4 linked regions of the Homo sapiens genome follow. The protein of the gene in region 3 purifies or fractionates together with the protein of the main gene of each other region. This does not show direct contact. Each region holds a gene or a part of one and is shown on either strand. Other genes may lie near its edges.

Evidence for each region.
Region 1: the proteins of NUDT16 (region 3) and ACSF2 purify together in Homo sapiens (affinity purification with mass spectrometry; one large-scale study listed by BioGRID and IntAct). This does not show direct contact.
Region 2: the proteins of NUDT16 (region 3) and CRAT purify together in Homo sapiens (affinity purification with mass spectrometry; one large-scale study listed by BioGRID and IntAct). This does not show direct contact.
Region 4: the proteins of NUDT16 (region 3) and COL20A1 purify together in Homo sapiens (affinity purification with mass spectrometry; one large-scale study listed by BioGRID and IntAct). This does not show direct contact.

The regions. Positions count from the first base shown.
Region 1 is NC_000017.11:50,458,213-50,465,698, reverse strand, and holds part of ACSF2 (medium-chain acyl-CoA ligase ACSF2, mitochondrial isoform 2 precursor), read right to left. Parts: intron 5,023-7,486; coding exon 4,827-5,022; intron 4,458-4,826; coding exon 4,329-4,457; intron 4,067-4,328; coding exon 4,013-4,066; intron 3,516-4,012; coding exon 3,397-3,515; intron 3,280-3,396; coding exon 3,114-3,279; intron 2,544-3,113; coding exon 2,448-2,543; intron 2,305-2,447; coding exon 2,147-2,304; intron 1,882-2,146; coding exon 1,790-1,881; intron 1,482-1,789; coding exon 1,405-1,481; intron 1,204-1,404; exon of another isoform or gene 1,174-1,203; coding exon of another isoform or gene 1,100-1,173; exon of another isoform or gene 402-1,099; coding exon of another isoform or gene 260-401; intron 1-259. Other genes in the region: CHAD (chondroadherin precursor), read left to right, coding at 260-401. UniProt on the Homo sapiens protein: Acyl-CoA synthases catalyze the initial reaction in fatty acid metabolism, by forming a thioester with CoA. Has some preference toward medium-chain substrates. Plays a role in adipocyte differentiation.
Region 2 is NC_000009.12:129,100,308-129,107,793, forward strand, and holds part of CRAT (carnitine O-acetyltransferase), read right to left. Parts: intron 4,000-7,486; coding exon 3,881-3,999; intron 2,760-3,880; coding exon 2,706-2,759; intron 2,259-2,705; coding exon 2,093-2,258; intron 1,751-2,092; coding exon 1,576-1,750; intron 383-1,575; coding exon 204-382; intron 1-203. UniProt on the Homo sapiens protein: Catalyzes the reversible transfer of acyl groups from carnitine to coenzyme A (CoA) and regulates the acyl-CoA/CoA ratio. Also plays a crucial role in the transport of fatty acids for beta-oxidation.
Region 3 is NC_000003.12:131,385,342-131,393,316, forward strand, and holds the end of NUDT16 (U8 snoRNA-decapping enzyme), read left to right. Parts: 3' UTR 1-3,489; downstream 3,490-7,975. UniProt on the Homo sapiens protein: RNA-binding and decapping enzyme that catalyzes the cleavage of the cap structure of snoRNAs and mRNAs in a metal-dependent manner. Part of the U8 snoRNP complex that is required for the accumulation of mature 5.8S and 28S rRNA.
Region 4 is NC_000020.11:63,328,464-63,336,570, reverse strand, and holds the end of COL20A1 (collagen alpha-1(XX) chain precursor), read right to left. Parts: coding exon 8,073-8,107; intron 7,615-8,072; coding exon of another isoform or gene 7,436-7,614; exon of another isoform or gene 7,330-7,435; intron 6,987-7,329; coding exon 6,913-6,986; coding exon of another isoform or gene 6,910-6,912; intron 5,852-6,909; coding exon of another isoform or gene 5,473-5,851; 3' UTR 1,765-5,472; downstream 1-1,764. UniProt on the Homo sapiens protein: Probable collagen protein.

The sequences.
Region 1 (7,486 bases), on a different chromosome or scaffold from region 3:
ACTTCCATGTCACTCCCAGAGCCCACCCTCATGTGATAGAGGCACATTAGCCCTGCACTAAGACATGTTGGACATGCATCCTAGATCTGCTACCTAATAAGCATGGGACCCTGGGAGCCTCAGTTTCCCCATTTGTAAAATGAAGATGACAGCTTCAGACTATCCTGTGGCCAAGTCAATCCTGGCCCCATAGTTCACTGCCCTTCCCCCCAGCACTCCCACCTTCTTCCCCAGCCCCAGCAAGTTTCTGTCTCTCCAGGTGGCTGGAAGCCAAGGCCTCCCGCCCAGATGCCACCTGTGCCTCACCTGCCAAGTTCAAGGGCCAGCACATCCGTGACACGGACGCCTTCCGCAGCTGCAAGTTCCCCACCAAGAGGTCCAAGAAAGCTGGCCGCCATTAAACAGGTGGGGGCCAGGTAAACAGGTCCCCTATGTCCCTCTTTGGTGATTCCAGCAAGTGAGCTGGTATCTTCCAGGATACCCCCTGGCCCTGGAGGGTCAGGCAGACCCTCCATTTTTACAGAGAGAGGAGGGGACGACTGGGTCCCCTGTTGAAGGGAGGAAAAGGTCCTGCCCAGGACTTCCACCATTTTCTTCAAGCATCATCTGTGTTGTTGGAGTACTGACATCGATCTTTGCCTCTTTGCAGGTTCTGACCCAGCCAGTCCTGGTGACTGGCCTCTGCCTTCCACCGGAGAGACTACTGACCTTCTCACCTCCACCCATACCTTCTCCCCACAGCCTCTGCTGATGCACAGAGCTGCCTACACCTAGACACGTCCTGGCAGGGGGCCTCGGGCACTCCACTACCAACCCAGCTCCACCCAGCAGTGTCCTGGGGAGAAGGAAGGCTGAGCCTCTCCCCAGCCTTCATGCCTTCCCCACCCTCCAGCTCCTCTTGGAGAAGCTGTTGCTGAGACCCCCCCCCCAAGTCAATCAGAACCACAACAGGTTGGTCATCAGGATGGCCACCCTCCCAGGATCATCCTTCCTCTGTTCCTCTTTCCCTGCCACGTGGAAACAATCATCAGATCCTTGCCCCACCCCTTGCTTCCAGAAAGGGTTTTAAAGCCCATGCCCCAACTCTGCCAGCCCCCACCTGCCAGGACGTTCTAGCAGGACATCGGTGCTTTGCTGTCCATCTTCCCATGCTGCAATTTCTTCCTGAGATTTCTATAAATATAAATGTATGTATGTATTATATTTACTCCCCTGCCACCTATCTCCTTCACCCACCAGGTGCTGATGAGGTCAGACTATCTTTTCTCACATCTGCTTTCTGGAAGGAGGGCTGGCTGAGAGGGTCTCCTTTGAACATCTGGCCTGGACTCATCCCCATGTCTGTCCATCTGCTGTCATCCCAGGCCTGGCCTGCCCACAGCCCGGGCCGCAGTCACCACTCACCACCAGGTCCTTCATATTTATCTTGTTGATGATGGCTCGGATCAACTCTGGAGGTGCAGGGGACCCAGCAATGACACCTGAATCAGAGAGAGGGCTGACACAGCTCCCCAATTCTCCAGGCCCAGTGGAGTCCTTTCACCTACAGCTCATTCAGGGGAGGAACATTCCCTTTTCTCCTCTGACCCCGAGCCTTTCCTACACCTGGCAGCTGGCCCTGGGCTGGTGTCCAGGGACACTGGGGATCTCCCTCCCTCCCACCCACATTTTTACAGCGTCCTTCTTGCCCCCTATATAAAAGACTGGGAGCATAGCTAACTCACCCGGGCCATTCCTGTGGGGGAAGCAGCCCCCTCCCCAAGCCTGGCTGCCCTTGGCCCCACCCCACCTCCACACATGGTCGAGATGTCATAACTGGAGAAGTCTGGCTGGTTCAGAATGTCCACGAACATCGTGGGGGTACCATACAGGAAGGTGCCTCTGTATAGGAGGAGGTCTCGAAATTAGGCTTGGAAGTGGAAGGGAACTCCCTGTTCTCACCCACCCCGCCATGAAACTGCAGCAAAGGGAATAGGCAGGAGAAGCTCCTGAGGCAGGAACTGGTCCTCTCCTGGGGGTCCTCCACTGTCCCCATCCTCAGTCTCCTGGCTGGAGGGAGGAGGCAGCTTGGAAAGGTGTCAGGGCCCAGGAGTGAGGAAGAAGAGGGTTTTATCAGCCCACAAGTAGCCTGTCCACCAGTGCCCACCTCTCTCTGCTGATGGCCTCCAGTGCCTTCTTGCCATTGAAGATGGGAGAGGCCAGGATGAGGGTGGCACCGTACATCAGACACATCATTGTGCCTGCCACGGAACCCAGGCAATGGTACAGGGGGTTGGGCAGGATCATCCGCAACTGCTCTGGTGTCTGGTGATGGAGACAGGAGGCTGGGTCTGTCTTGGAGCCAGACGCCAGTTCCTCTCTAGCTGGCAAGGGGAGCCCAGCCAGCCCCCCACCCCTGCCTGAGCCACCCCTCCTGCAGCCTTGCCCTGGGCCTAGTGCCGCCTCACCTTCTCATGCAGTTTCAGGCGCTCTCCTAAAATGTTGGAGTTGTTGACAATGTTGTAGTGGGAGAGGGTGGCCCCCTTGGGGCTGCCTGTTGTCCCCTGACAAGGCAAACAGGGCATGGCTTGGCCTCCTTCTCATCTCCTTCCCACCCTGGGCCACTGCCTTGAAGAGCACGGGACCGGGAATCAGGAGACAGGGATTGTTGCCCCAGATCCATCTGTTCAGTATATTTGCAAAAGGTCTACCACGATACCAGGTGTCAGGGTCCAGCAATGCAGAAGATAAGGTCTCCGTTCTCATGCCACTTACATGGCCCAGAGAACTCTGCCACCCACAAGCTGGCTTGGGCAAATTCTCTCTTCTGCGTCTCTGATTCCTCATCAGCTAAATGAGGGGCAGCCTGTAGCAGTTCCAACCTGTGTTGGTTCAGTGAATCTGCCACTGCACCGGGAACAAGAGGGCTGGAGTGGAGAGGGCGGGGGGCTAGGGGAGGAAATGTGACAAGGACACCAGGTGCTGATATTTTCCAGGGCAGAGAGGACAGCTGAAGGCCAGTCTCAGTAAAGAAGGCATGCTCTCCTCTGCTGTCTCCCCATCCCCGCGGAAGTGTCACAGGGACAGGGGGCATGTGTCCATCTGGGCTTGGGGCCTGGAGACCTCTGCCCTACCGAGGTGAACTGGATGTTGATGGGGTCATGGCAGGACAGGAACTGCTGGTTGTATTGGAGCTGGTCCAGATGCTGCCGTGTGCTGCCAGCCGCCACCACTTCATCCAGGAGCAGGGTCCCCGGCAAAGGGGCATCCACCGAGATGACTGTGGTCAGATCTGGGAGCCTGGGGTTGGGGACGATGGTGAGAGACAGGGGCTGAGGGAGGGGGCAGGGTGGGTAGGAAGTGAAGGAATCAGGGATGCTGAATGATGCACCACCCACTAACCTGGGACACACCCACCTCTGACTCTTCAAGGCCCCTGGCTGGGCATTCTCCACTTCTGGACAGATCTGCTTCAGGACGTTGTAGTATTGCTGGGTCTTGAATTGCTTGGGGAACACAAGGGCCTTGCAGCCCACCTGTGGAAGGGGAGTCCCCCACCTCCAGTCAGCGGGGAGCCCCAGACTAGAGCTCTGGGGGAGTCCTCACTAATCAGCTGCTCTCATACAGATGCACCCGCTTCTGACACACACACCTCCAGCACACTCACAGGCACCACACTCCAAGACAAATGCACACATGTACCAGCCCCGAGACACACACACCACACCCTGAGACACATATGCATCACATATGAGGATGGACACACGCACACACACACACACACACACACACCTCTGCCCTGACACACACATGCCCCCGTCCCTGCACACTCACGCCAGGTTTGTGTCTGACCAACCACGCTCTCCTTGGAGTTGGGGCCACCTTCCAATCACACATGGCCTAAGGAAGGACACTCTGCGTATCACCCGCCTATGCATGCCCTAGCTCACACCGTCAGACTCTGACAAGCAGAGTCTGTGCAGCCCCCTGTGCCAGGCCCCAGCCGGGCCCCTCCCCGACAAATGAGCTGTACCTTCTTGAGGACATACTCCAGTTCCATAGCCTGGTAGGCTGGGTTCACAGACACCTGGTGGAAGCGGCGAGGGCATATCAGTATTCTGGGCAGACCCTGTCCCTCCTGCTGCCCCTCCGCCCCCAGGAGGCATAGAGGCAGCACTCTACAGCCCCCTAACTCCCAGAGACCTCCTTGGTGGGCCTCAGGAGAAAGCACTACCTGGTTTGAAACCAACAAGGCACTGGTTTGATCCTGGGGCTGAGGGCCTGAGGGGCTCCCCTTCAGTGATGTTCCCCCATGCACACCAAGCTGTGCCAAGCAAGCCCCTCCTCACCAGAATGATGCCCGCCTGGGCGGTGGCCAACTGCATGAGCACCCATGCATAGGAGTTAGGTCCCCACATGCCCAGCCGGTCACCTTTGCAGAGGCCAATGCTCAGGAGGCCAGAAGCAGCTTTGTCCACCTAGTGTAAAAGATGGGGCGCAAGGGGTGAAAGGGGGCAAGCAGGAAGGGGCCCAAGACTCCCACCCTCAGCCCTTAGCCCGGAGTTCTCATCACAGTCACTGGGGACAAAGGGACAGGCAGATTCCCAGCCTCAGTGGGTCTGCCCTGGGGCCTGCATAGTTAACAGGTGCCCCAGGAGCTGCTGATACAGGAGGCATTGGACCCCTTGTGCGTCAGTCCTGTCTCCTTCTCCTGCCATCCCTCGGGGTTCTCTGGCAGCCCTAGCACATTGCCCCATAGCCAGGTGCCCACGCTCCTGGTTCTGCCCAGCTAGGGCAGCTTGGGAGCTAGTACTTGCCCACTTTGAGGTTTCCAGGTCAGGACCCACCTCCTCCTTGAGTTGGGCAAAGGTCAACCTGACGTCTTCATGGAGGACGACCAAGGCCTCTCGTTCTGGGACCCTCTGTGCTGTGGTCTCCAGGCACTGGCCCACAGTCTTGCTGTTAAGATGCTTTTTGGTGCACCCCTGAACGTAGCTGAGGCCTCCGATGGGCGTGGAGACCATGCGATCCACCTCTCTGGAACTGTAGGGAGAGGAGCTATGGGTTTGACTGTCCCAGATCAGTCTCCCTGGAACCAAGGGCATGGCACACCCAGCCAAGCCAGGGGGTAGGCTGCTGACAATGTGTTAGAGACCACTAGGTTTCCTCCAGATCTTCTTGTAAGCCTAAAATCCCCCAGACCCTTTTCCCAACCTCAAGCCTAATCCCAAGGCAGCAGGACAGGGACAAGGTTACACCAAGCTGGAGCAAAGGGCCCTCCTTCGCCTTCCCGGGAAAGGTGAGATGCCATAGTGAAGCCTGGGAGAGCCTGCCTGTGCAGACAGACAGATCTTACAAAGCAGGACCATGCCTTCACCCCTAGCCCCTGCCTCCTGGAGAATAAACAGGTCACTGGGGTCCTTCCTGAGGAACCAGGGAAGCGTGCCTGGACCCTGGGCTTGAATCCAAGGTCTTAGGATTTTAGACTCCTTGGTGGGCCAGTTTTTCTCCTGAGGGCCTGAAAGCCAAAGACAGAATAGGAAAGGGATAAAGGAGAGGGCAGATGGAGGCCCTAAGAGAGGCAGCTGGGCGGCCCCTGTTATTCCACAGGCCTGTAGGTGTTCAGTGCCAGGTGCTAAAGATCCTGGGCACCTGCAGATGAAGAAGAAAGCCCCTATATGCCAAATGGCACCTGGGCTCCAGCTCCCACTCTCAGATGATGTCACAAGGCAGGCAGGCAGTTTCTGTCTCCAGGGAATTAAGAAGCTGGCTGAAAGCAGCCAGTTAAGGCAAAGGGGCCAGATGTCAGATAAGCAAGGGGCACCAAGAGCCTGAGAGTACTGAGCTGGGGATGTTGAGTGGAGGAAGCAGCCAGCTCGGGACCTGGCTCGGGTTCTAGTCTGGGGCCGGGACTCTTCACCTCTCACATGTGGCTACCTATCCATTTCAGTGCACAGGTGGAAACAGGTCTGGGTAGAGGCCTGGGCAGTCACGGGAGTAGTAACCTACTCCCCAGTTTTCTCCATCGGCCTTTCAGGAACTACCCATCTCCTCCCAGCCCTGCCAGGTAAGAGACAACCCCTAAGTAAGGGCACGTCAAGCTGGAGGAGAACCTGCACTTCCATTACTGCTCCACTTAACTTTCCCCACCTTTTATTAACTGTGGCACCTGAGCCAGGCATGGTGGCTCACACCTGTAAAGTCTTGCCAGCACTTTGGGAGGCTGCAGCAGGAGGATCGCTTGAGCCCAGGAGTTCGAGATCAGCCTGGGCAATATAGGGAAACCCTGTCTCTATGAAACATTTTAAACAATTAACCAGGTATGGTGGCGCATGCCTGTAGTCCCAGCTACTCCGGAGGTTGAAGGGGGAGGATCACTCGAGCCTGGGAGGCAGAGGTTGCAGTGAGTCATGGTTGCACCACTGCACTTGAGCCTGGGTGACAGAGAGAGGCCCTGTCTCAAACAACAAACCAATAAAACCCAGTGGGACCTGGCAAGTTATCTGTTTACTCTTTGGCTCGAAGGGGATGAAGAGACTGCCTTGCCTATTCCATAGCAGGGCCATGACGTTCAAGCGTGAACAGGCCTGCAAAGGTGCTTTGCGAATGGTGAAGTGCTCTGTAGTCGACAGGCATTTTACCATCCATTCATGGCATTTATCGACCATGCTTTCGACACACATTCAGTGAGCACCCGTATGTGCCAAGTACTATGCTAGGACTAGAGATAGAACAAGCCACAGTCCTTCTTCTAAGAAGCTCCCTGTCTCTGGGGAAATTAGACATATTAGCTCTTCGTGGGTGGGAACAGCCTAGAAAATCAGGAAATGGGAGCCATGAGGCAGACTGTGGGGGGAATCCCAGCCCATCTGAGGCCCATTGTCTGTCCCCTCAAAGCTGGGTTAAGGCAGCCTCTCTTAGACCTGGGCCCTGGGGCCACCCATACTATGGCCTCCTCAGCCCTACGGAGTACTTAGCCAACATTTATTCCTCCAACAAATATTTAGGAAACACCCACCACAGAGAGGGCCCAATGGTAAAAAATGAACAAAGCCAAATACAGTCCCTGTCCTTGCAGAGATAAGGGTCTGGTGGGAAAGACAGGAGTGCAGTCAACCTTGGTAATGATGAATGTATGTTTAGAAAGCTGAGATAAGGAAGGGGCCGTGGTCCTAGGAGCACCTGTAAGACGGAATCTGGGATCACCTGGGGCTCCAAGGAAAACTCCCTTAAGAAATTTATGCCTAAGCTGACAGCTGAAGGGTGAGGAAGTATTAATCATCAGAGAAGGGAGAGGAGGGCTTTTCCAGCAGAGGAGAGCTTGTCTCTGTGGCTGGGGCATGGAAAATGAAAGGGAGTGCTGTGAGAACGGGAGGGTGACTGGAACTTGAACCCAGCTGAAACCAAAGGGTCCAGAGCAGAGGACATTGGGCCTGGAAGAATGAGGAGAGCCCCCAAACTCCAGGTTCTGGGGTTGGGGTTTTCTCCACCCATGGGCCCAAGTGGA
Region 2 (7,486 bases), on a different chromosome or scaffold from region 3:
ACAGCGGTTTCCAGGCCAGAGGCAGGACTGGTGATGACAGGCTGGCTGCCTGGTAATTACGGCAGCGTCCAGCCTGCTGGCTTCCTGCCTGCTTTACAAGCTAGGAGGCTGGGGACGCAGGGCCGGGGACGGGCAGGAAGTCCCGAGGCTGCAGAGGTCCTGTTCAGGTGTGTGTGAGTGGGCGAAGCCCTGCCGGGCCTCACCTGCAGCGTCTTGTCGAACCAGCGGTTGCCGCTGTTGAGCCTGCTGCCGCCCCCATGCAGCATCTGGCCTGCCACGTGGCTGCGGTACACGTCTTCTGAGACCCTGGGCATGGTTGCATCTAGGCACACGGTGAAGATGCTCTTCTGGATGGAGCGCACGGAATCCCGGTTCACCTTGTCTGCAGGTGGCATGGGGCGGGGAGACGCAAAATGGGGTCTCATGGTGTGGGAGAGATGGACCAGCCCCTCCGCAGCCTCCTGCCCTGGGCTCTTCTGACCCATTTGTACCTCTCTGGGATGAGGAGACCCCCCACCTCGCCGGCCCTCCAGGGCATTCACCAAGTGCAGGGTGTGGGTTCAGAGCTTCGAACTCAACAGGACCCTGCAGGCCCACAGCACTCCTCGAGGCAGGGCCCAACACCTGGCCCACTTTAGACACAGGAAACCGAAGCCCAGGGGTCACATGGGAGCTGGTGTGGCAGCCGGGGAACCCACACAGGTGGTCTGACTTTGGGGTCAATGCCCCTGAGCAAGACATGCTTTGGAGGACTGCTGGTACTTGGGGGCACAGGGGGTGTGGAGGCGGGTGGGCTTCTCAGCCAGAGGACTTGGACTCTAATCCTAACTTGCTATTTAGCTGAGAGAAACTACCCTAACCATGAGGTGTCCTCAACTAGGACATGGGGCCCACATTGCCTGCTCCACGTTGAGAGGATGCAGCGGGAAACATGTCTGCCCATGGCTGTGCGGGGCCCAGCATGCCGGGGGAATGTTGGGAAAAGGACTTGTGGGGTGCCTGTATAAACTGGCCATAAAAATAGGGGACAATAAGTTGTGGAAAGCCAGAAGAGGCCACGGAGGAGGAAAGCCTACTAATTGCCATCATGTTCCCATGCTCAGAGCGAGACCCGCTCTCCTATCTGTAAACACTGTGTTCAAGGAGAAAGACACTCCTTTGAAACACTGGGAAGTGGACAGATGTGCAGGCTCCTAGTTAAGCCCGCTCCCACCAGCTACTCTCCGATAAGTTAAAGACACGCTGTTTGAGCACAAAGGAGATTCATTTAAACTGCTATTGCTATAGATTATGCCTCCTATGAGGCACTGCCTCCCTTTCACTGTTTCGCCCTGAACATGTGCTTCTTAGAGCTAAGTGACTGCACTCAATAGTGTGGAGACCAGAACTCTGCGCCTTTTGCAGCCTCCATTTTGCAACTGGCCCCTGGCTCCCACCTTCATGAACTCTTAACCTGTCTCTTCTCATTCCTTTGTTGCCAGCAGACTTCGGGTACCCTACAGGTGGAGTTGAGGCTGGTCCCCAACAGGGGAAGAGGCCTGGGTGTGCAGCCCCAGCACGGCCCCCAAGAGGCACCTTTGATGAGGGTGTTGTATGCCTTGGCCCAGGAGTTGCGGTGGTTGGAGGTGAGGATGCCCACAGGCTCCTTGTTGGTCTGTAGGGATGAGTTCCAGATCTTCTCCAGCTGCACAAAGATCTGATCCGCAGTGAGGGGTGTCCCGTCACTGTGGTACACATCCAGCTCAAAAAACTGTTGGGGCACAGGCAGGTAAGAGGAGGGAGCTGAGTGGGGACCTCAGGCTGAGAGCAGCCACCTCCCCACACCTGCCTCCTCCTGGCCTTGGCCTTGGAGGGGATGGAGTCAGGCCAAGGGTGAGAGGGGGAGGAGGTCCTTGGATCACCCTTCTGGGCTGGGCAGGCCCACGGCCCCTCCTGGCCTCCCTGGGCCCCCAATGGAGAAGCCAGGGGCGCCCATTCCTGGGGCACGTGGGCACGTGTGCTGGGGAACCCCAGTGGGGAAGCCGACTGCGGCCGTCCGGCTGTACTCCTGCAGCAGGGCCGGGGCTTGTAGGTGTGGGTGGGGGCCACCCACCTGGTAGTTGTGTACCACGGTGATGTGCGTGGGAGGCTTCTTGGTCTTGCTGAAGTTGCTGACTGTGTCCTGCTTGGGGCCCGGCACTCGGCAGGAGGACAAGATCTGATAGTACTGGTTCATGCACAGTGGCTTCCCCCCCAGGTACTCCACGGGCAGGGTCTCGCTATGGGGTAGAGGGGCAGTGAGGCCACCACTGGGCAAGTGAATGGGGAGGAGGGCAGGGTAGACAGGGACCTGCTAGGTACTGCTGGGGGCTCACACAGTGTCCCTGCTCCCACTCCCAGATGAGCAGGACACCTCAGGGCTGTGCTGTGGGCAGGGGGCTCGCTTTCTGCCCCAGATGGGCCCTGTTCAGAAGTCATCTAGAAACTCCCTCCTTTCCCCTCTCTGGGCTTCAGTTTGTCACAGGGGAGATGAAGCAGCGAATAAAACTCTGGGGTCCTCTTTAGTTGGGATGGGACAGGGTCACCCACCAAGAGGAGATTCCAGCAGCTGGAGCAGGGCCCAGGGCCCAAGCTGGCATGCCGGGCCAGGGCTGGGGTCAGAGGTGGCTGTGGTAATTAAGCAGGCCTGGGCAGGTGTGGGGCTGGGCAGGGGTGGGGATGCTCACTTGTCAATCATGACCTTGAAATCCAACACACCCTCAATGAGTTTGGCAGCAAATCTGGAAAGATTGATTAGAGATTAGAAGCTGCGTGGACACCCTGAGGGAGGCCCCGGGCTAGGGACACCTGCTTGGGGAGCGGGAGGTCTAGTCTTCCAGCCTCTCTCACCGCTTCCAGAAAGCCTGGGAGCGCAAGGGAGGGGCCTGCGAGTCCCAGCTTGCCAGCCTGTGTGTGCTTCTTCATAACCTCTAGAGGGAGCATGGTCGGGAGGGCTCGGGGAAGTGCTGGTGGCCAAGGGCCTAGTAGGACTTGGGTGCTGGCCCCCTGCAGCTGGAGTGTGGCTTGGTTAGGGGTCAGTGGGCTGGGTCTACCCACAAAGGGCCTGAGCTCCTGAACCTCAGCCTAGAATCTGGAGGGGGTGTCATCTGCTCTGAAGCATCGGTTCTGGAGGCCCCGGGCCCCTGGGGTGGTGTGATGGGAGAGCAGTGGCTCCGGTGTTCCCTCCACTAGGTCCCTTCCCCACTCTGGGCCTCTGTGTCCCCCAGGCCGCCTTCCTCCCAGGGCTGTCTGGCCCATGGCAACCACCCTCAATGCTTGGGGCCGCCCCTGGATCCCACCATGGGGACCAGTGGCTGGAGTTCCTGGGCCTGAACCCCGGCCCTTCCCAGGGTACCCTGGTCCCTTTAAGAGAAGCAGGTGGTGGCAGCCAGTGGCTGGTCCTTGGGCAGGAGATCCTTGTCACTGGTATTTTTATCTCTGGTAGGACTGGAATAGGGGCTGGGGCAGGTGACCTGGCTGAATGTGGAAAAGAGGACTGTGTACAGAGGTCACCCCTGTGGCTAGCTGAGAAGAGTGGAAAGGAGAGGTGAAGTGCTAAAACTGGGGTCGGGGAGAAGCCTCAGGTATGGAGGAGGATGGGGCCTCTGCGAAGATGTGGTGGTTAACAGCCATGAGGCTTTAGAGCTGGAGAGACCCTGCTTCCTGAATGGGGTCTTGGGCAGCTCCCTTCCCTGCTCCGAGCCTCAATTTCCCCATTTGTAAAATAGGGAGGATGCTCCCTACTTCATAAGGCTGCTTGTGGGGCAGAAAGATAAACAGGGTCGGGGCCCCTCCAAGCGGCTGGGCGAAGTGAACTCGAGGGGCCCGGCTGCCTCCTGGCCCCCAAACCCCAGCCACTCACCGGAGCTGACCCTGCAGGTCCACGAAGTCCTGCTTGGGTAGCATCACGCCTGGGCTCGAGTAGATGACCACAGGCTGGCGGTACTGGAGGTAGGCGGTCTTGAGCCACCACTCAGACAGCTGGGAAAAGTGCCAGAGCCTGTCAGGAGGGGTGCATGGGCCCTGGTGCCCCCTGTTCCCCAGGGCTAGGGGACCTGGCTGGCCCCCATGCCCTCTACCTGGCTATGGAGATTCTCAAAGTAAATGCCTAGATCCAGAACCCACCCTCCCTGCCCCACAACTTAAACCCACCAGCCTCTTCCCTTTAGCCCGAGTGATCAGTATTAGCCAGATCAATCCGATGCTGCTGCTAAGAAAGGATGTGAAAGAAAGATCAGGAGGAAACCCGGGGTGTGGGGAGGGGCAGCAAGGTGAACGAATTCTTTTTTTTTTTTTTGAGACAGGGTCTCGCTGTGTCATGCAGGCTGGAGTGCAGTGGCGCAATCTCGGCTCACTGCAAGCTCCGCCTCCTGGGTTCACGCCATTCTCCTGCCTCAGCCTCCTGAGTAAGTGGGACTACAGGCGCCAGCCACCACACCTGGCTATTTTTTTGTATTTTTAGTAGAGACGGGGTTTCACCGTGTTAGCCAGGATGGTCTCGATTTCCTGACCTCATGATCCGCCCGCCTTGGCCTCCCAAAGTGCTGGGATTACAGGCATGAGCCACTGTGCCCGGTCTTTTTTTTTTTTTTTGAGACGGAGTCTCGCTCTGTCCCCCACGCTGGAGTGCAGTGGCATGATCTCGGCTCACTGCAAGCTCCACCTCCTGGGTTCACGCCATTCTCCTGCCTCAGCCTCCTGAGTAGCTGGGACTACAGGCGCCCGCCACTGTGCCCGGCTAATTTTTTTTTTTGTAGTTTTAGTAGAGACGGGGTTTCACCGTGTTAGCCAGGATGGTCTCGATCTCCTGACCTCGTGATCCTCCCGCCTCGGCCTCCCAAAGTGCTGGGATTACAGGCGTGAGCCACCGCGCCCGGCAAGGTGAACAAATTCTCATCTTACACATTCTCTGTCAATGACTGTCATATGTTAAATTAAAATGTATGCCTGAATAGATAGAAAGGAAAAAAGGGAAGGGTCTACAAAAACAAAGTCCAATGAGTGACTTTTTTTTTGAGACAGGGTCTCACTGTCACCCAGGCTAAAGTGCCACGGTGCTATCTCAGCTCACTGCAACCTCCACCTCCTGCATTCAAGCGATTCTCTTGCCTCAGCCTCTTGAGTAGCTGGGACTATAGGTGCGCACCACCATGCCTGGCTCATTTTTGTATTTTTTGCTGCAGACAGGTTTTCACCATGTTGGCCAGGCTGGTCTTGAACTCCTGACCTCAAATGATCCACCTGCCTCAGCTTCCCAAAGTGCTGGGATTCCAGGCGTGAGCCACCGCGTCTGGCCCAATAAGTGAGTTTTTGACCATCCCCAGCAGAGAACTGTCCAAGGAGGCAGGAGACTGGGGTATCAGAGCAGCCTGAGGAACCTGTGGCCTCGGGGAGTAGATACCCACTTTGATCTCAAGGTCAGGGCAATCTTGAGGGGATGCTCCCTGCAAGGATGAATCCTTATGCTAGTGACAAGATGTGGGTGACACATCCTTACTCTCTGCCCTGACGGTCTGTCCTCTCTCTGGGGGGTGGGGGGTCTCTGGGCACCAGCCAGGGATGTGGTATTAAAGGCTCCATGTCTGGCGCTGCGCACACTCCCAGGTGACTGTCACCCTGTGTCCTCTATGCTGACTGCAACACCCACCCTTCCTGCACACAGCCAGTACAGCTTTCTCTGGCCTTCCACCCCCAGAGACCTGGGCCCACCTGCGCCCCCTCAACCCGTGGTGAACAGCAGCAGGATGCGCCTCTTCATCACACGCACTCCCCTGCAGCACTGGGCCACTAGCCTTTGGCAAGGGGTGAGGGGGAGGCAACTTGGCAAGGGGTGAGGGGGAGGCAACTTGTCCCCAAGTTGTACAACAGGTGACTGGTAGCCCCTAAGAACTGGGTCCCTGAGTCAGTCAGACCTTCCTGTGTGGCCGAGGGCTTCCTTGAGAGCTGCTGTGTGGCTCTGGGCTTTTGGGCCACCTCTCTGGGCCTTAGTTTTCCTCATCTGTAGATCAGTGAAGGGCAGACAGGAGCTTCCTTCCCTTGGGGAAACAGCCAGGGGCCTGTACTCCACTAGGGATCCCAGAGCCTCTGGCCAAAGCTTGGGAGACCAGAGGAGACCCCGCAGGTATGGGTACTCCCCCAGCGAGAATCTGCCAGGTGGTGGCGGAGACCCTTCGGTGGCCCCGTGAGTGGAAGGAGGGGTGCCCCCACCCCTTTAACCAGGAGCTTCTGTTTGAAGGAGTCCCAGGCTAAATGAAGTCGGAAAACCACCAGCCCCCAGACGCTCTAAGGACCTTTCGGGGGAAGCATCTTGGTTCTGGAGTCCAAAGTCCTGACCTGACGCGTCTCAGCAAATGTTGACAACTCCCACCTCCTGTGTGCAGCCCCACAGCCTCCGCCAAGCCCCAGGGCTAGAGCTCTACCTCCCCTCCCCATGGCACCCCCTATAACACAGCATTTCCCAGGGCCGGACCCGCTCTGGCTCTCCCACAGGTAGCTTCTCTCTCAGGCAACCCCGACTTGGCAAATTCCACCCGTGCCCCCACCTCATTGGCAAGTGACACTGGCACTGCCTCCAAAACAGTCCTGGACCTAACGACTCTCCCTCTCTCCCATCCGGTGTCAGACCCAGGCTGCCACAGCTCCTTGGGGGTGATGTCACCCCTCCCCCTCGCCTCTGGCTTCCACTCTGCCTCCCTCCCAGCAGCTGGGTCACCTTTTTTTTTTCCCAAGACAGAGTCTTGCTCTGTCGCCCAGGCTGGAGTGCAGTGGCACAATCTTGGCTCACTGCAACCTCCACCTGCCAGGTTCAAGCAATTCTCCTGCCTCAGCCTCCCCAGTATCTGGGATTACAGGTGCGTGCCACTACGCCTGGCTAATTTTTGTATTTTTAGTAGAGACAGGGTTTCATCATGTTGGCCAGGCTGGTCCCGAACTCCTGACCTTGTGATCTGCCCGCCTTGGACTCCCAAAGTGCTGGGATTATAGGTGTGAGTCACTGCATCCAGCTGCCACTTTTTAAATCTGTGTATTGAAGTATGAGATGCAAATAGAAAAGCACACCAAACATTGGTGTAGACATATTTGCCAAACTGGGTACACCTGTGTCATAGATCAGATACAGAACCTGGGCGATCGGTCACTGAGTGACACATATCCCCTGCCTGAGGCTGTCCCACCAAGCACAAGGGCATCTTCTATCTGGTTGTACCTGCCGTGCACCCCACTCCTGCCTCTGTCCTGGAACATGAAACCTTGTCCACAACCTGTATCCTGTTCATTACCTTTCTCTCCTCCCTACTTGAATGTTAGCTCCAAGGAGCTGGTGACTGTGTCCTTCTTGATCACCCAGCACCCTGCCAAGTGCCAGACACAGAGTATGTGCTCACGAAACTCTGGGCAGCAAACGAACGGCCGTGCCAGAGCAGTGGGCACTGGAGAACTGTGCATGTGCAGCCAGCAGCAGGTCACA
Region 3 (7,975 bases):
ATCTAGGGTTGGCGAGGCTGGAGGGCAGGGTGAGCCTCCACATGGGTGCTGAAGCAAGAAACCGACAGATGTTGAGGAGAATGGTGTGACCTAGGAGTCAGCATCCTTGGTGAACAAGAGGAGTGGCCACAAGGCCAGTGGCACCTGCCAGAGGGGAAAGCAGGCATGACAGGATAGCATCTCCCAGGTGAGAGCCTTTTGAGGAAGGGAGGGTGGGCAGTGGTCTGGAAGCTTGATGCAGAGCAGTGTGGGTCCCACTGGCAGCCCTTGGTCTTAGAAGAATGGGAGTACCCAGTGGGGGAGCAGCTGTACAATGAGGTAGACTCCTAGAGGTTAATTATCATCTCCTAATCTTACCCTGACCCTTTTGTCAAACGTTATCTAGATTAAACCTCAGTATAGGCAGGCTGCAGGAAATGGACATTCCAGTGGCCCCTGGGGTTCCAGCCTGTAGCAGCTTCATCTGTGCTTTGTGCACTTGGTTCTCAGTCATCTCTGCAAGGGACCCTGACGCCTGGGAGATCAGAGCCACTGACCCTTTATGGCACTGCTAACAGACCCCTTCCCTCAGGTAATTCTGGATCCAGAACTCATTATGGGATGTAATCCAGGTCAACACTAATACCACTTGGAAGGTTCCGCTCTGTCTCACTCTGCTTGAGTATCCCACTGATCAGTCTCTCAGTGCCTGCCTACTGGGCAGCTCATCTGTCCACTTATTCGTATTAAATTTGCTTTTTATTTAGGTCTCTGGAGATGGTTGCGTGGGGAAGAGCCCATGACTTTCCTATATGATCCCTTGAACATACTCTCCAAGTCAGTAGATTACCTCTCAGGCAGCCTTCATAAAAGTGTTTCACTGTACTGGGGTTTGTGTTCATCTCACTCACATAGACAGTCTCTGGGTAGGCAGGTGGGGGGTGATACAAGTTCACACTCTGTGTTTCTCCTCCTGTTAGCCATTCCCACCCTGCTGATGTTTAAGGAAAGCCAGGGATGATGACCCACTTAAGCTTTCCTTGGCCTTGTTAAGTCCAATCATCTGGGGCAGGAAGAAGAGAAATGCTCATTGCAATCTTTGACCCCCACTAACTGCTGTGGTGACTTTGACCCAAGCCCTTGACCTCCTTTTCCTTATCTGAAATGTTGCTGTGATTCCTGTGGTGAGATCAGATGAGGCAGCACTTGGGATAAGCTTGCAGAGATGCATTGAGCGGTATGAAAGTACAGGATGCTATGTACTTTCCTGCTTCACAGCACATTTTGTTTCTTGCAAGGTGAGTGGCCCAGCCGCCTCTCCACAAACACGTGTTTCTGCCTTTCTCAGCATAATCAGCAAGATGTTCCCACTTCTCAGCATTGCACTTTTCTGCTGGTGCAGAATAAAAACACTTTGAGCCCCACCCTGTCCTGAGACAAAGTCCTCTGTGGTCACTTGGCATATGGCAAAGCTGCTGCTGTGGGCTGGAACATTTGAGGCAACAGTGACTTCCTCCTTTCCTAGTTACCGGAACCCTTAGAGCTGGGAGCCGGCCAGTGAAACAGACAAGGGGAGGGGAAGAGAAGAGGGAAGGCATGTTTCCTATATGAGTTTCAGTTTGTTGCACAGAAATGTTTTTGAAACCTTTATCTCCAATAGAATCACAAACGGGTGTCAGAGAGTCAAAACTAGAGGAAAAAGTTTAGTCTGTAAACAAATCATTAGATGGCATCAGAATTTGAACCAAAGTAAAAGATGCTGGACCTTGGCACTTATCAGAGAAGTATAGAAGAGCCAGGTAGGGGATTTTATTTACAACATGTTCAATTCTGAGGAAGAGGAGTATGGGCAGGGCAGAGGAAAAAGGAAAAATGGGAAACCCCCATGGACTTAGGGCCCCCACAAAGAGAAACCATGTGCCTTCTCCCCACTTCCCTTCTGGCTTGGGCAAATGAGGCTCCCTTTAGGGGTAGAGGTACTCTACAGGGGCTATGTTCCCTTTAGGGGTAGAGGTAGTCTACAGGGGCCAGCTGGGCAGAGATGAAATCTTGCAAAGGAACCCTTCTTACACTCGAAAAGCAAGAATAGCAAAGGGACTTTGGGAAGGACATAAAACAAGAAAAGGAAGCTCCTCACCAACAGCTCCCAGATGGAGGGAGTTTGTGTGTCTAGCATTTTCACCAAAGTGCTGCTCATCCTGATGCACAGATGCAGATTGGAGCTGCTGCCTGTGCCCTCACCATGGGTATGTACCCACCACAGGCATTCCCAGGTGATGCGGGGGCAGAGGATTCCCTCTTTCCACTCAGGATAACAACCCCTCGATGGGGTTTTCAACAAGTATAGAAAGCTCCTGGACTCAGCCAAGACCCTCACCTACAGTCCCAGTCCTCCCACCTTCTTCAGGTCTCTAGAAGACAGAACTGATGGGTTTACAACATCCTATTATCCAGCACTAGTCCTAGGTTGTGGATGTAGGGAAAGGCCAGGTAAACAAGGAAGGGAGAACAGGTGAATGACCCCAATTGTTTGAAACCAAAAGAGCAGAATTGCCCCTAATTGATTTAAGTAAACAGCAAGTAACATAGGTCTGTTAAATAGAAGAGGATGTGAGCACCAGATGCACGTGATAAAGACCATGCTCTGGAAGATTCATTCCAAGGAGTAGAAGTGGTATTTACTCAGGGCATTTAAGGAGAGCAGGGACTCTGAAATGAGGTGAGAGAAAAGATAAGACATGCAGGAACAGCTGGCAACACCAAGAAAGAATTTAAGGAGAGGGATCTCTCTGTTAGAGAACTTAACATTACCCTAGGAACAGCAAGAGCATCATCAGCCCCAGGAAAATCTACCTCTGATATGGAGACCAGGCTTAAGAAAATCCCCTAGAACCCAGAGAAAAAGTGCAAAACAAGGAAAATGGCCAAAGAGAATATCATAGATACAGAGATCAGACAATGAGAATCCAGAGTCTTGTTAAGTGATAGAAGGAAAATACTAACAGAACACATGTAACAGGAACAACATTTTAGAGGAAACAGGACAAAAACTTCCCTAAACTCAAGATACTACACCAGAAGTGGGCAGTACTCACTATGTTCAGGGGAACAAAAAGATAAAAACTAAAAAGCATCAGACTGTTTTTTGTGTGAAGGAAATTTGTAAGGTAGGAGAATTAGGTCACTTACTACAGCACAAATTGCATGTCTATCTAAATTGACGTTTAAGTGCAAAAGCATGGATATTACTCATGCAGTTTTACTGGAAAACCATACAGATGTTTTTCAGGAATGTACAGAATGAATCAAAGGAAATAACTGATCGACAGGAAAACTGTAGGAAATTTGTGGGCTGGCTGTGAGGCAGTGGCTCCTATTATGTACAATTTTAGTGCTAAGTACTGTGTTAATGATGGCTATCAAACAATATGTTAACATCTGAAAGGAAATATGTATATTGAGCATAATAAATATTTTATAAATAACAATAAATCATTTGATTTTATGCTAGTTCCCAGGTTCTCACTTATTTTAGTAAAAGTGAGTAGTGAGGAGGGAGAAAGAAGCATAAAAATGTGATTCTGCTGAGGAAATTAGCAGGATTTGATTTCTGAAAACGGTAAGACTCGTGAAATTTTACTATTTCAAAGTACATACCAAAACAATATGATTCTGGCTGAATATGAAAAGATGAGAAAGAATGCCAGGGAATTACAGTAAAAAAGTAAGAGATCATCATAATATTAATATCAAAGGCACTAGAATTCTTTAATTGATCAAGAGATTATCCACAATAATCACATAATCACCAACAATTTCAGATTATATACAGCAAAGTCTATTAGAAATTAAGAAAATAGTATTAATTAAGAGAGTGCTAAGATACTTTCAGTCAATGTTTGACAGTTAAAATGTCAGGTGTAAGTATGCCTATGTAGTATTGAAAAAGAATAAAAAGGAAGATGCTGATGACAATTAACATTTTAGGGATGCCTACTGTGTGGCAGGCACTATTCTAAGCTCTTTTCATGTATTAACATATTGAGTCCTTAGAACAATCTTATGATGTAAGGATACTATTGTCTTCATACTCGAAACAGACTCAGCACAGAAGTCAAAAATATAATGAATGTACTTTGCTTAAATATTGAGCTCTGTAACTTCAAGCAGTGAATGTAATTTTAAAGGGTCAGGAAACATTTAGCAAATTAGTCGTTTATTGGACCTTATAAAACCTCAGTAGGCCGAGCACAATGGCTCATGCCACCGAGGCATGTGGATCACCTGAGGTCAGTAGTTCGAGACCAGCCTGGCCACCATGGTGAAACCCCATCTTTACTAAAAATACAAAAAAAAAAAAAAAAAAAAAAAAAAAACTAGCCGGGTATAGTGGCGCATACCTGTAATCTCAGCTACTCAGGAGGCTGAGGCAGGAGAATTGCTTGAACCTGGGAGGCGAAGGTTACAGTGATCCGATATCGTGCTACTGCACCCTAGCCTGGGTGACAGGGAGAGGCTCTATCTCAAAACAAACAACAACAAAACCTCAGGGGAACATCACACACTGGGGCCTGATGGGGGTTGGGGGGCTAGGGGAGGGATAGCATTAGGGGGACTACCTAATGTAGATGACAGGTTGATGGGTGCAGCAAACCACCATGGCACATGTATACCTATGTAACAAACCTGCACATTCTGCACATGAACCTCTGAACTTACAGTGTGTATATATATATATATATAACCTCAGTAAATCCTCTGGTCTTCTATCACCCTCTAAGAAATAATAAAGCACATACCAAGTTCTGGACCACATGTAGTAAAACTAGAAATAAATTACAGGGACAGACACTCTGAAATATTCCTGTTATGCCTTTCTATATTGTTCGAATCTTGCACAATATGTATGTATTCTATGGTCATAAAATGACTAGTTAAAAATAATAAAAAGGAACTATTTTTTTCTTGTGGTGTATAGAAACCAGCCCTACTACATCTAAAAAAACAAAAAAAAAAGGGCTCATGGGTAAGTGGGGACCTATCCCAATAAGCATTTTGGGGTAATATGTGGAGTTGAAGGAAGATCTCTTCCCCAGCCCCAAGTGATCAAAATCAGATTAGAGGCTGATTGATTGACTCTGGGCCGTGTGCTCGCATGGATCCCCTGTGCTGACTGGAATATGCAGTGTGACTGGGCCCTCTGCTCTCTCTGTGGCCAGCAGGGTGGAGAGTTGTGATTGCCAGTCTCACCAGATCAAGATCTGGGGGAGAAGAAGATCTGTATGGGAGGAGGCAGTATATAGCACAAACACCTGATGTCCACCACACAGCAGGGAGAACAAAGCCAGGTGAACTCACACAAAGGTGCAGGGCCAGAGACCATGTTATGTTAGAAGCATGACACAGGAAGGGGAATATCACACTCTGGGGACTGTGGTGGGGTGCGGGGAGGGGGGAGGGATAGCATTGGGAGATATACCTAATGCTAGATGACGAGTTAGTGGGTGCAGCGCACCAGCATGGCACATGTATACATATGTAACTAACCTGCACAATGTGCACATGTACCCTAAAACTTAAAGTATAATTAAAAAAAAAAAAAAAAAAGAAGCATGCCCTATGGCATCCAACCTGGAATTATGAGGATAATAAAAAGGAAACAAGGCTAGAAATTAATATTGCCAGAAGCTAGTCTGTGGAAAATTCTTCCTAATCTTACAGCTCATATACAAAAACAAACAAAAACACAAAAAACTTGAGTTTTTTTTAACATTTGAGAAAAATTTTAAAACTTTACATTATGTTACCAATAACAAGTTGTGAAACCAAAAAAAACTGTTTAAACTATCAGTAATTAAAAACACAGTTTGATTACCATCCTAGAGGAAAACTGAATAAACTTCCAATTCACCATGTGTAGAATGATAGCATAAAATTGTCATATGAAGACTAATCAAATAGTATGCAACTAAAAAAAGGTAGAAAAATATTATAAGAGCATATTAGGTAATTAATTATGTTATTTTTCTGGATTTTTTCATGATTGTAGGATTTTTTAGTTTTTTCAAGTTGTAATTTGTTGTGAATTTATATTCTAAATCACTTTCCTTTCATATCTAATTTTGATTTCCTTTTTCTTAAAAAGTGTTCCCAGAGTTGTAAAAGATTCAAGCCCCACACAACACGTAGCTCTGCCTATGCATTGAGGCCTGGCAGCCCTGGACACTTGGATGGAGTGAAGTGGGGCCGGAAGTAGCTTTTCACTATTTTACCTTCCCTGAAGACCCTGATGCTGGGGCTGAGACCCAAACGAGAAAGCTGGGGTATAACGAATAGGGAAATAACTATCATCTGTTTGAGTTTTTTTCAGTTTGTAGAACTAACTGAAGTTATTCCTTATTTATCCAAGAGACGGTAAGTTATGTAAATGTTCTATACCAGGACTTAGAGGTGATGAAGAGGATAAGAGGTGAGGGAGAGAGAGTAATCGAACCCCAGTGAGTGTAAGTGGCTGAGAAATGCTGGCCTCTGAACCTGAAGCCTTTCCTTGGTGTTGGTGTACTTGGTGGTCACATGGAGGATTTAATGTCCCTAAGGCAGTTGTCTTCCACGGGAGTGACACCCCTCCTTAAAGGGAGTCTTCCTGTTACCAATGTCATATAACAAACCATCCCCAAATTTAGTGGGTTAGAATAACAGCAATTCATGGTTGCAGTCAGATGGAGGTGACAGCTCGAGTAGCTGGGAGCTTGAGTAGTCTCTCAACTGAGAGCAGTAGTCTCTCTCTCTTCAGATCATCTCAGGGCCTCTCCATGTTGTCTGTTTGGGCTTCCTCACAGCATGGCCACCTTATGGCAGTGAGACTGCTTACATGGTAGGTCTGGGCTCCAGCATGAATGTTCCATCAAGCAAGGTGGAAGTCGCATGGCCTTTTCTGACTCAGCCTTATAAGTCACACAACTTTACTTTTCCCACATTCCATTGGTAACAAACTAGACACAAACTCACAAATTCAAGAAGTGGGAGGACTGGGCTCCAAATCTTGATAAAGGAGCAGCACAGTTCTGGAAGATGGTGTGGGACAGGAGATATTCTATGGCAATCTTTGGAAGATACAATCTGCTACAGTGTCCCCAAATCCTTATTGTATTTTTTATTATTTATTTATTTTGAGACAGAGTCTCACTTTGTCACCAGGCTGGAGTGCAGTGGTGCAATCTCAGCTCACTGCAACCTCCGCCTCCTGGGTTCAAGCGATTCTCCTGCCTCAGCCTCCCAAGTAGCTGGTATTACAGGCACCCACAACCACGCCCGGCTAATTTTTGTATTTTTAGTAGAGACGGGTCTCACCATGTTGGCCAGGATGGTCTCAATCTCTCCACCATGTGACCCACCCACCTCGGCCTCCCAAAGTGCTGGGATTACAGGCGTGAGCCACCCTGTCAGGCCGAAATCCTTGTTGTAAAAAGGAGGCACTGGGTCTGAGAACCCTGTCACAGCCCTGAATACATTTCGGATGGAGCCAAGCACTAACTGACAGGATTAAAATCAGAGTGCTTGGCAGCAGGTCTTGCTCCGGTGCTTGACTTGCAGCTGTCATCCTGCTCCCACCTCACATGGGCCTGACAGATGTGAGGCTGCCAAATCACGTTAGAAACCTCTGCAGATGGACACAGGTTGGTGCCATGTAAAAAGTCAGAGGGAAAGTTCTGGATTCTGGACTTTTTTTCTTCTAAGTTTTAAAGCCGTAATAATGTTCTAAGAAACCTCAGGTCTGGCTTACCGTTGTTTCAGGTATTCTAAGACACACATCTTTAAAATCTCTGAAATAGGAATGAGTCTTACAATTGATGCCAGGTTTTGTTCTTGACATAGTTGATATTTGCTGCATACGGCTTTAAAAGTTTTAGAAGGAATGTCAGCAGCTTGGGAAGAAATCCAAGAGACGAATGTGGGGAACTCTTAAGAAACGTTGCAAATCATGGCTCTTAATGGC
Region 4 (8,107 bases), on a different chromosome or scaffold from region 3:
ACGCACACACGTGCATGCAGACACGCACACACGCAGATACGTGCATGCACACACACGCACACACATGCATGCAGACACGCACACACATGCACGCAGACACACGCACACACGTGCACACACAGGGTGGCCTGAGTCGTCCCCAGGGTTTCTCCGTTTCTGTGTTCAGATCCTGGATTTGTCGGGCTCCCTCCCCAGTCCTGGCGTCTCACCAGGCAGGAGCCTCTGTTAGTGGCCATCTTGTTTCCAGGAGTCTGTGGGGACTCTTCTGGAAATGCGGATGTCTGAACGCCCATTTCACCTGGGCCTGCAGATCTGTTGGCGTAAAATGGGTCAGAGGGCTCTGGTTTTCAGCCTTGTCTTCATCCATGGTTTTGTCCTCTCTGCCCCAGCACTGTGGTGGCCCTCTCGTTTCTCTGGCCAGGTGCACTTCACTGAGCCCTCCGGGACGTGGGGGCCACCTTCCCCACCCCGTGGCTGGCCCAGGGCTGGCCCCACTCTCCCTTTCCCCTCTTGCCTCAGGAAGGAGCCAGAAAAGGTTCTACTCTTGCAGCTCAGCTTGGCCGTGAGACCGACGTCTGGCCACAGGGATGTAGCTGACAGTGGCAAGGACACCTTTGGAATGTGCCCTTCAAGGTTCCGAGCCTGCCCTTCTCCCTCCTCTTCTTCCTGTTGTTGGAATGTGACCCGATTCCGGGCCAGCCTTTCTCCTCCCTCCTCTTCTTCCTGTTGTTGGAATATGACCCAACAGTGGAAACAAGGGCAGTGTCCTGTGTGGAGGATGCAGAGCCAGGTGAGGGAAAGAGGCCTCCCCGTGCCTCTGAGAATGTCACTTCCACACTGCGAGAGCCACTCTTATCCTGTTATTATTGTTACTTGAAGCCACATCGAGCCCTACACGGCGCGTTTAGTCACTCTGTGGGAGGTGGTAACGTGTTCAGCTAAAACGTCTGTTTTCTGGACAAGGAGAGTTGCAGTCTTTGTCCTTAGGTACAAGCAGAAGTCTCCAAGTGGGACTCCTGTTAACACTGGTGCTCTTCACCCAGAGGACTCCCGCCCCTTCCGCCAAGTGAGGTGTAGCTCCTGGAGCAGCAGCAGTCATCTTGTGATGAAGGGCAGCTACATGCCAAGGACAGCCAAACAGGCTGGGATCCGCCATCTTGTGGTGAAGGGCTGGGATCCGCCATCTTGTGGTGAAGGGCTGGGATCCGCCATCTTGTGGTGAAGGGCTGGGATCCGCCATCTTGTGGTGAAGGGTGGGGATCCGCCATCTTGTGATGAAGGGCTGGGATCCGCCATCTTGTGATGAAGGGTGGGGATCCGCTATCTTGTGATGAAGGGCTGGGATCTGCCACCTTCTGATGAAGGGCAGCTACATGCCAAGGATGGCCAAACAGCCTGGGGTCTGCCATCTTGTGATAAAGGGCTGAGATCCGCCATCCTGTGATGAAGGGCAGCTACATGCCAAGGACGGCCAAACAGGCTGGGATCTGCCATCTTGTGATGAAGGGCTGGGATCTGCCATCTTGTGATGAAGGGCTGGGATCCGCCATCTTGTGATGAAGGGCAGGGATCCGCTATCTTGTGATGAAGGGCTGGGATCTGCCATCTTCTGATGAAGGGCAGCTACATGCCAAGGACGGCCAAACAGCCCAGGATTCCCTCAATGTCCATTCCTGCCCACAGGACTTTACGTGTGATGGCAAAAACTGATTTAGGGAAGCCAATGGCAATCAGGTTTTAATTAAATACAGGCAAACACAGTACTAATGAATGCACACTGCTTCAGGGTTTATTTTCTACTATTTAAAATTGTTTGAGTTGGAATCTTCCCTAAAAACTGTGTTTAAGGGCCGGTGAGGTGACTCACACCTGTAATCCCACCACTTTGGGAGGCCAAGGAGGGTGGATCGTTTGAGCTCAGAAGTTCAAGACCAGCCTGGGTAACACGGCAACACCCTGTCTCTATTTAAAAAAATACAAAAAACATTAGCCAAGCGTGGTGGCGCACGCCTGTGGTTCCTGCTACTCAGAAGACCGGAGCAGGAGGACCACTTGAGCCCAGGGTGGCACAGAGGTTGCATTGAGCCGAGATCATGCCACTGTACTCCAGCCTGGGTGACAGAGCAAGACCTTGTCTCAAAAAACAAGAAAACAAAACAAAGCACTGTATTTACAGCTATAAATTGCCCTCTAGGTACCACTGCAGCTGCAGCACAGAGATTCTGACGTGGCGCTGCATCCATCATTATTTGGTTACAAGTATCTTCACGTTTCCTTTTTTCTCTTTAACCCATGAATTACTGTGGAGTCATGGGTGTGTCTTTTAGCTTCTAGAGGCATTCTTTAGCTTGTTATCATTGGTTGTTTTTCCAGTTTCATCAGTGAGTGAGTGAGTTCTGAACAGCAGGATCCTTTGGAATGTAAGGTTTCTTATGGCCCAGTTCATGGTTAGTGTGTGGATATTCCACACATGAGAGGAGAGTGTTTCTCCACTGGGCAAGGAGTTCTGTACTTACCATCAGATCACGATGGGGGGCTGTATTATGACATCGTCTCTGTGCTGGGGCTCAAGTCCAAATGTTCCACGCCCTTCCCCAAGAAATGCACTGAATCTACAGACACTGGCTTCCCCCACCATCTGCCCTGGTGTGAGTCCACGTGTCCCAGCTCTCCCGTCCCCACTGCCCTGGTCCTTGGTAGATGAAGAGGCTGGCAGCCATACGTCGCCCCCCAGGTGCAGATGGCATCGGGGCAGGCTCCTCTACAGCTGGGGTTGGGTTTCCTCAGCTTCCATTTCTGACACTGCCTGGGCCAGAGCCATCCTCTGTGGGTGGACACGCCTCACCTGCTGGTCCTGCGGGCACAGCACCCCCTGCCTCCTGCTACACATTCCTCCCAGGCCTGCACGCACCCGCCTTCCTGGGCGCTGTGCCCACCCCTCCCTCTGAGCTCATCACTGAGCCGTTCTTCCCAGCTCCCCACCTTGCAGGTGGCTCTCAGAGGGGCTGTGAAGGCCTGGAGCTTCCAAGGTCGCTCTTGGGGCCTCAGGCAGAGCCACTCGGCACTGCCTGCAGACCTAGGGAGGGCAGGTCAGATACGCATGGCTGCACGCCCCTTACAGTCCACACAGCCACACCACCCTGTGACCCCAGCGTGAGCCCCGTGATTCCATGACCTTCCCACAACCCCCATGACCCCAGCGGCCTGAGCTGAGCGTCAGATCAGCCTTGCGTCACACCACCTCGGTGGCTGGCCTGAGCTGAACATCCCCGGCTGCATGGGCACGGGGGTGACTGGGGGCAGCACCTAAGGCCATGAGCTCTGGGCCAAGACCAAGCACCTCCCTGCATTTCCTCCCGGAGCCCCCACACTGCGTAGGGCTGAAGCTGTGCTGCCTCTGGGGGTGGAGAGGGGACCGAGGCCCACTACAGAGGGGCCTCTGGAGGGGAGAGCTGTGGCCGTAAAGGCAGGAGGGGAGGCATTGCCAGAAACCCAGCGCTCTGGCCAGGAGCGTGAGCCCCGGCTCAGTCCCTGGGGGCTCCTAAAAGGACCCAGAGGGATGCGGTGGAGTCGGGGCTGATGGGAGACGTGCAGGTCGGCTGGGTCTCGGGGAGGCTGCCTTCCTGCAAACAGGAGCCAGGCCGGTTTGGTGCATCCGGAGGCTGCTCTCAGCTCCCTTGCCATCCTCACCTTTGATTCGTACTCAGCTCCACTGCACAGGCTGGGGCGGGTGGGGCCTCAGGGACCAGTCCCTAAGCTGCCTGGGCACCAGCTGGCCGCTGCCTTTGCTGTGCCATTTTAATTGGCCTCCAGCATAAAGTCAGTTTCCCGAAGACAGCCGGACTCCCCTTTTGAGGCTGAGCATCACTGGTGTCACACCAGCGTGGCGGGGGTAGGGCAGCTGAGGGGGTGGTGGGGATTAGAGCCACCCTGGTTCCCCCCGGCCAGGCTGCCTCCTCCTGGCTGCCAATGTGGTCTCAGCCACCCAGTGCCCAGTCCCTTCATCAAATTGGAGAGCCCCAGGAGAGGGGCTCCTTTGGAAGGCTCTGGATGCCCTGTGGGCTCTGGGCTTGATTCTAGCCCCACTCCTGCCTCATGACAAAGCCTGCTCACTCCACTGCTCAAAGAGCCTTCTCAGTTCAGCTGGGGACATGTAATTCCCCGCCCTGGAGAAACCAAGTGAGAGCAACCAAGCTGTTTTGCTGGTCACACAATCTGAAGCAACTCAGCTCCCCAACAGAAGCCAAGTGACCTAGGTGTCCTCCCTGCAGGACGGAGGGGCTGGCTTGGGCTGCTGCTCTCAACAACTGTGTCTGATACCTGCACTGAAGGCTATAACTCTGCCCCAGATGCTGCTTTACCTGCACCTACTTTGGCCACATGCTCTCCTTGTCCCTCAGTGCAAAATCTGTCTCGATGCCACGTGACTTCTTCGACGTCTGATTTGTCCACAGACTTTGGGAATTTTCAGTGGTCTGTTTCTGTTCTCATGCTGCAGTGGGAGCTGGCATTTGGGGCTGCTTCCTGGCCTCAGTCAGGGCTGTGGCTCCTGTGGGTGCAGGCGCTCTCTCCCATCCTGCTGACCCTGCCTATGACTCTCTATTTGGTCTCCAGGTCTGGTCAGTTCCTGGAACAGTTGAATCATAGATGAAGTGTTTGCCCTGAAGCTGTTTTGCGCTCACCTCTTTGGGGTATGCTTTGGTGCACGCAATGCTGCACTGGTGATCTTGGTGGGTTTTCCTTCTGTCAATATCAAGGGTCTCTCTTTGTTCCTTTTTAATACTTTTCATTCTCTCCTCAATGATATGGCTTCCCTCTTCATTTCTGGCACCTTTCTTGCTTAGCTGCCTAAGTGGTAACAGTGGACTAGTTACTGAATATTTGTTTGGAAAGGAAGTAGAAGTTCCCACATCACCCCCACGGGCCACAAGGCCCAGAAGCCCAGGTGTGTGTTCTGAGCTTGCCCCCATGCTGTTTGGGCCACAGTGGGGATAAGGCAGGAAGTCCAGGCTCACACAGCGTCTGTGATGGTTGGGAGAGACCTGGGCAGAGGTGCTGAGGAGCGCACAGGCCAGAAGCCTGCTGAGGGATGACCTTGCTCTGAGACCCTAAGGACCAGGGGCTGATGGTGCCAAGTCTCAAAGCAATGTCCCTGCACAAGGAACTCAGCACAGGGCTGGGTGGGTGAGGGGTGGCCATTCACACACAGGATCTGAACTCCTTCTTGGGCTGGGGACAGAGGGGACGATGAGGCAGGCAGGGACCTGCCTGTGCCCAGATGTGAAGGTGCTGGGGCCGGGGTGGGAGTGCTGTTCTGAGGGAGGAGCCATCGTGCAGGTGACTGGTGGGCCAGCAGTGGAACCATCTGTTGCCTGCGTGAGGCGCAGAGAGAGGCGGGCCCACAGGGCCCTGGCCAGGCTTAGATGAGGCCCAGAGAAAGGGGCGGGGCATGTTGTTGAGCCTGTTTTAGAGCTACTGAGACGGCCACAGGGCACTGCTGCCCTCCTGAACCCGATTCGCCATCAGCCCAGCCCCTCCCCTTCCCCACTGCGGCTGAAGCTGCAGGGCCTCAAGGTGGGGTGCACAGAGCCAGGGTGGGGGACACTCTCCCAGGAAATGACTCCCGCCTCGCTTGGCTGGGTGAGCACTCAGGGGTTTATCTGAACTTGGAAATGCTACAGAGCCAAGAGTATGGGGTGGGCCTTGGCCGAGGCCGCTGCTTCCCTCTCCTTCCACCTGCAGGCTCTTCCTGAGCTTTTCTCCTGGCTTCTCCAGGATGTGGTCGCTCTCGGTGTCCAGACAAACCCAGGGAGGAAGGCTCAGCGTTCCTCGGGGCAGTGCAGAAAATGTCCTGGCAGGAGAGAAGGGAGGACAGATGTGAGAGGCCGAAGACAGCTGGACACCGGCTCAGGGCCAGCGCCTGGCACTGTGGCCACCCTGAGAGCCCGCATCCTGGGTCTCTGCACACTGCGTCCAGCAGGGCCGTGAGTGGGCAGAGCCATGGGCAGGGCCGTAAGTGGGCAGGATTGCGGGCAGGGCCGTGGGTGGGGTCATTCTCTGACGGGTCTGTGGAGGAGAAGCAAGGCTGCTTGTTCTTAGCCCTGGGCTCTGACCTGATTCTTGGGCATCTCAGGCAGCTGCCCTCTTGCCCCAGCCTTACCAGGAGCCCCTGGGTCTCCTGCCTGTGCTCCTCAGCCCTCCTAGCCCCTGCCGAGTCCCCTAGCTCAAAGGTGCCGGCCCCTCATGGGCCCCAGGTCACACACCCTGCGCCACGCTCTGGCCCCTGAAGCTACTTGAGGCCGGAGTTGTGCTGTACCCACCACCTGCTCCTGGGACCCTGTCCCCACACCTGCTGCTGGGACCAGCCCCTCAGCTAAGTTTGCACACAGGGTCCGCCTGCCCAGCGCTTCCTGAGGAAGGCAGAGGTTACCTGGTGCTACTATGGCCCCCACCCTGCCTCTCTCATCGACATACCCAGGGCCTCACAGGCCCCTCCTGGGACTCCTGTGAGCTTTCCCACACTTGGACCAGGTGCCCACTGAGCAAACACCTGAGCTCCACTCTCCCTGCTGCGCTAACCCTGGTCAGGGCCTCCTCCGCCCCAGCACGCAACTCTGCATCCCACGAGGTGCAGCAGACTCCCAGCACGCCAATCCATCTCCGGAACCCCACGTCCTGTGACCCCACGCCCTGTGACCCCACACCCTGTGACCCCACATTCCTGTTGCCCCTACGGGGTCCATAGTTGACCCTACTTTCCCCAGGGCCACCTCGCCTGCCTCTGCTGGGCCTTGTGCTCCCAGCACCCCACCCTGGACAGCATGAGGCCCCACCCGTTGGCCCCTCAGGAGCTCCTCCTTCCTGGATGCCCTCAGCCTTGGCAGATAGATGCAGGCAGCAGGGGCTCACCTGTCACTCCCAGAGGCCCTGGGTGCTAGCCCCCTGCTGCCCAGGGCTGCCCATCTGACCAACAGCTCCAGGCTCCCCTGCGAGGAAAGGGAGGGCATGTGAGGACGGAGCAATGCAGTGGCTTGGGGCCCTGTTCTGACGGGGACAGAGGGTGTCAGGGCCCCTCCCTGGGCACAGGCAGCAGGTCTGGTCCTTAGATGGGAGTCTGAGATCTAGGGGCAGCAGCGTGCCAGGTCCCCGTGCTCCACACAGGCGCCTCCTGGGCTCCATGACAGTTCTGGGGGGGCATGGCCAGGTGGGAAGGCGTCAGGTGGGGGCCCTGTGATAGTGCCTGTCACCCTCATCTAGACAGGTGGGTGCAGAGGGGGCCGTTTATTCTGAGTAGTGATGTACCCCTCATCTGCCAGGCTGCAACCAGGCCACTGTGGGCAGCTTCCAAGCCGGGGGCAGGGGTTCCCACAGCCCACGGGGCTCCCCCCAGGTTGCCCCCAGTTTCCTGAGACGTCTGTGGGATGAGGGGTGGGATTCAGCCGATGCCCGAACAGAGCAGAGATGCCCCCGCTGCTGCCCCGGCCAGTGCAGAACTCAGTCCTCGTCTGGCTGGGTCATCCCCCGTCTGTTCTCCCCGTGGACGCCCCTCTCCAGCTCCAGCTCCCCGAATCAGCCTCTCCTCCATCTCAGCGTCCAAGTCATGACCCACCGCTGCTGCCTCAGAGGAGGAGGAGCACCAACAAGGTCACGGGAGCCTGCGACTGTGCGCTGGGTGGGGAGAGGCGGAGGAAGCAGCAGCCAGGAGGATAAGAGGGCGGGAGTGGGGAGGACAAGGAGGACAGGAGGGCGGGAGGGCGGGAGGAAGGATGGGAGGTAGGCTGGGCTCTCCTGTGTGGCCCTAAGCAGGCAGCTCATGTTTCCTGAAGACTGGGGAAGAGGTCATCTTGAGGGCCCTGGAAGGCCAGGCCGAGGCTGACCTCTTTGCCATGACTGGCTTTGTGTGGGCTCAGGGAAGCCCCGTGTCCTCACCCCAGCACCCCAGAGGCTGGACAGTGGCATCTCCAGCAGGAGCTGCTGTGCTGACACAGATTGAAGCCCCAGCCCCAGGACCAGGGGACAACCGGCGCCCCCACCGGCCACAACTCCCTCCCCAAGAGCCAGGAGCCCAGTACCTCTGCCCTCAAGGTGGCGGCCACCACGCCCCCAT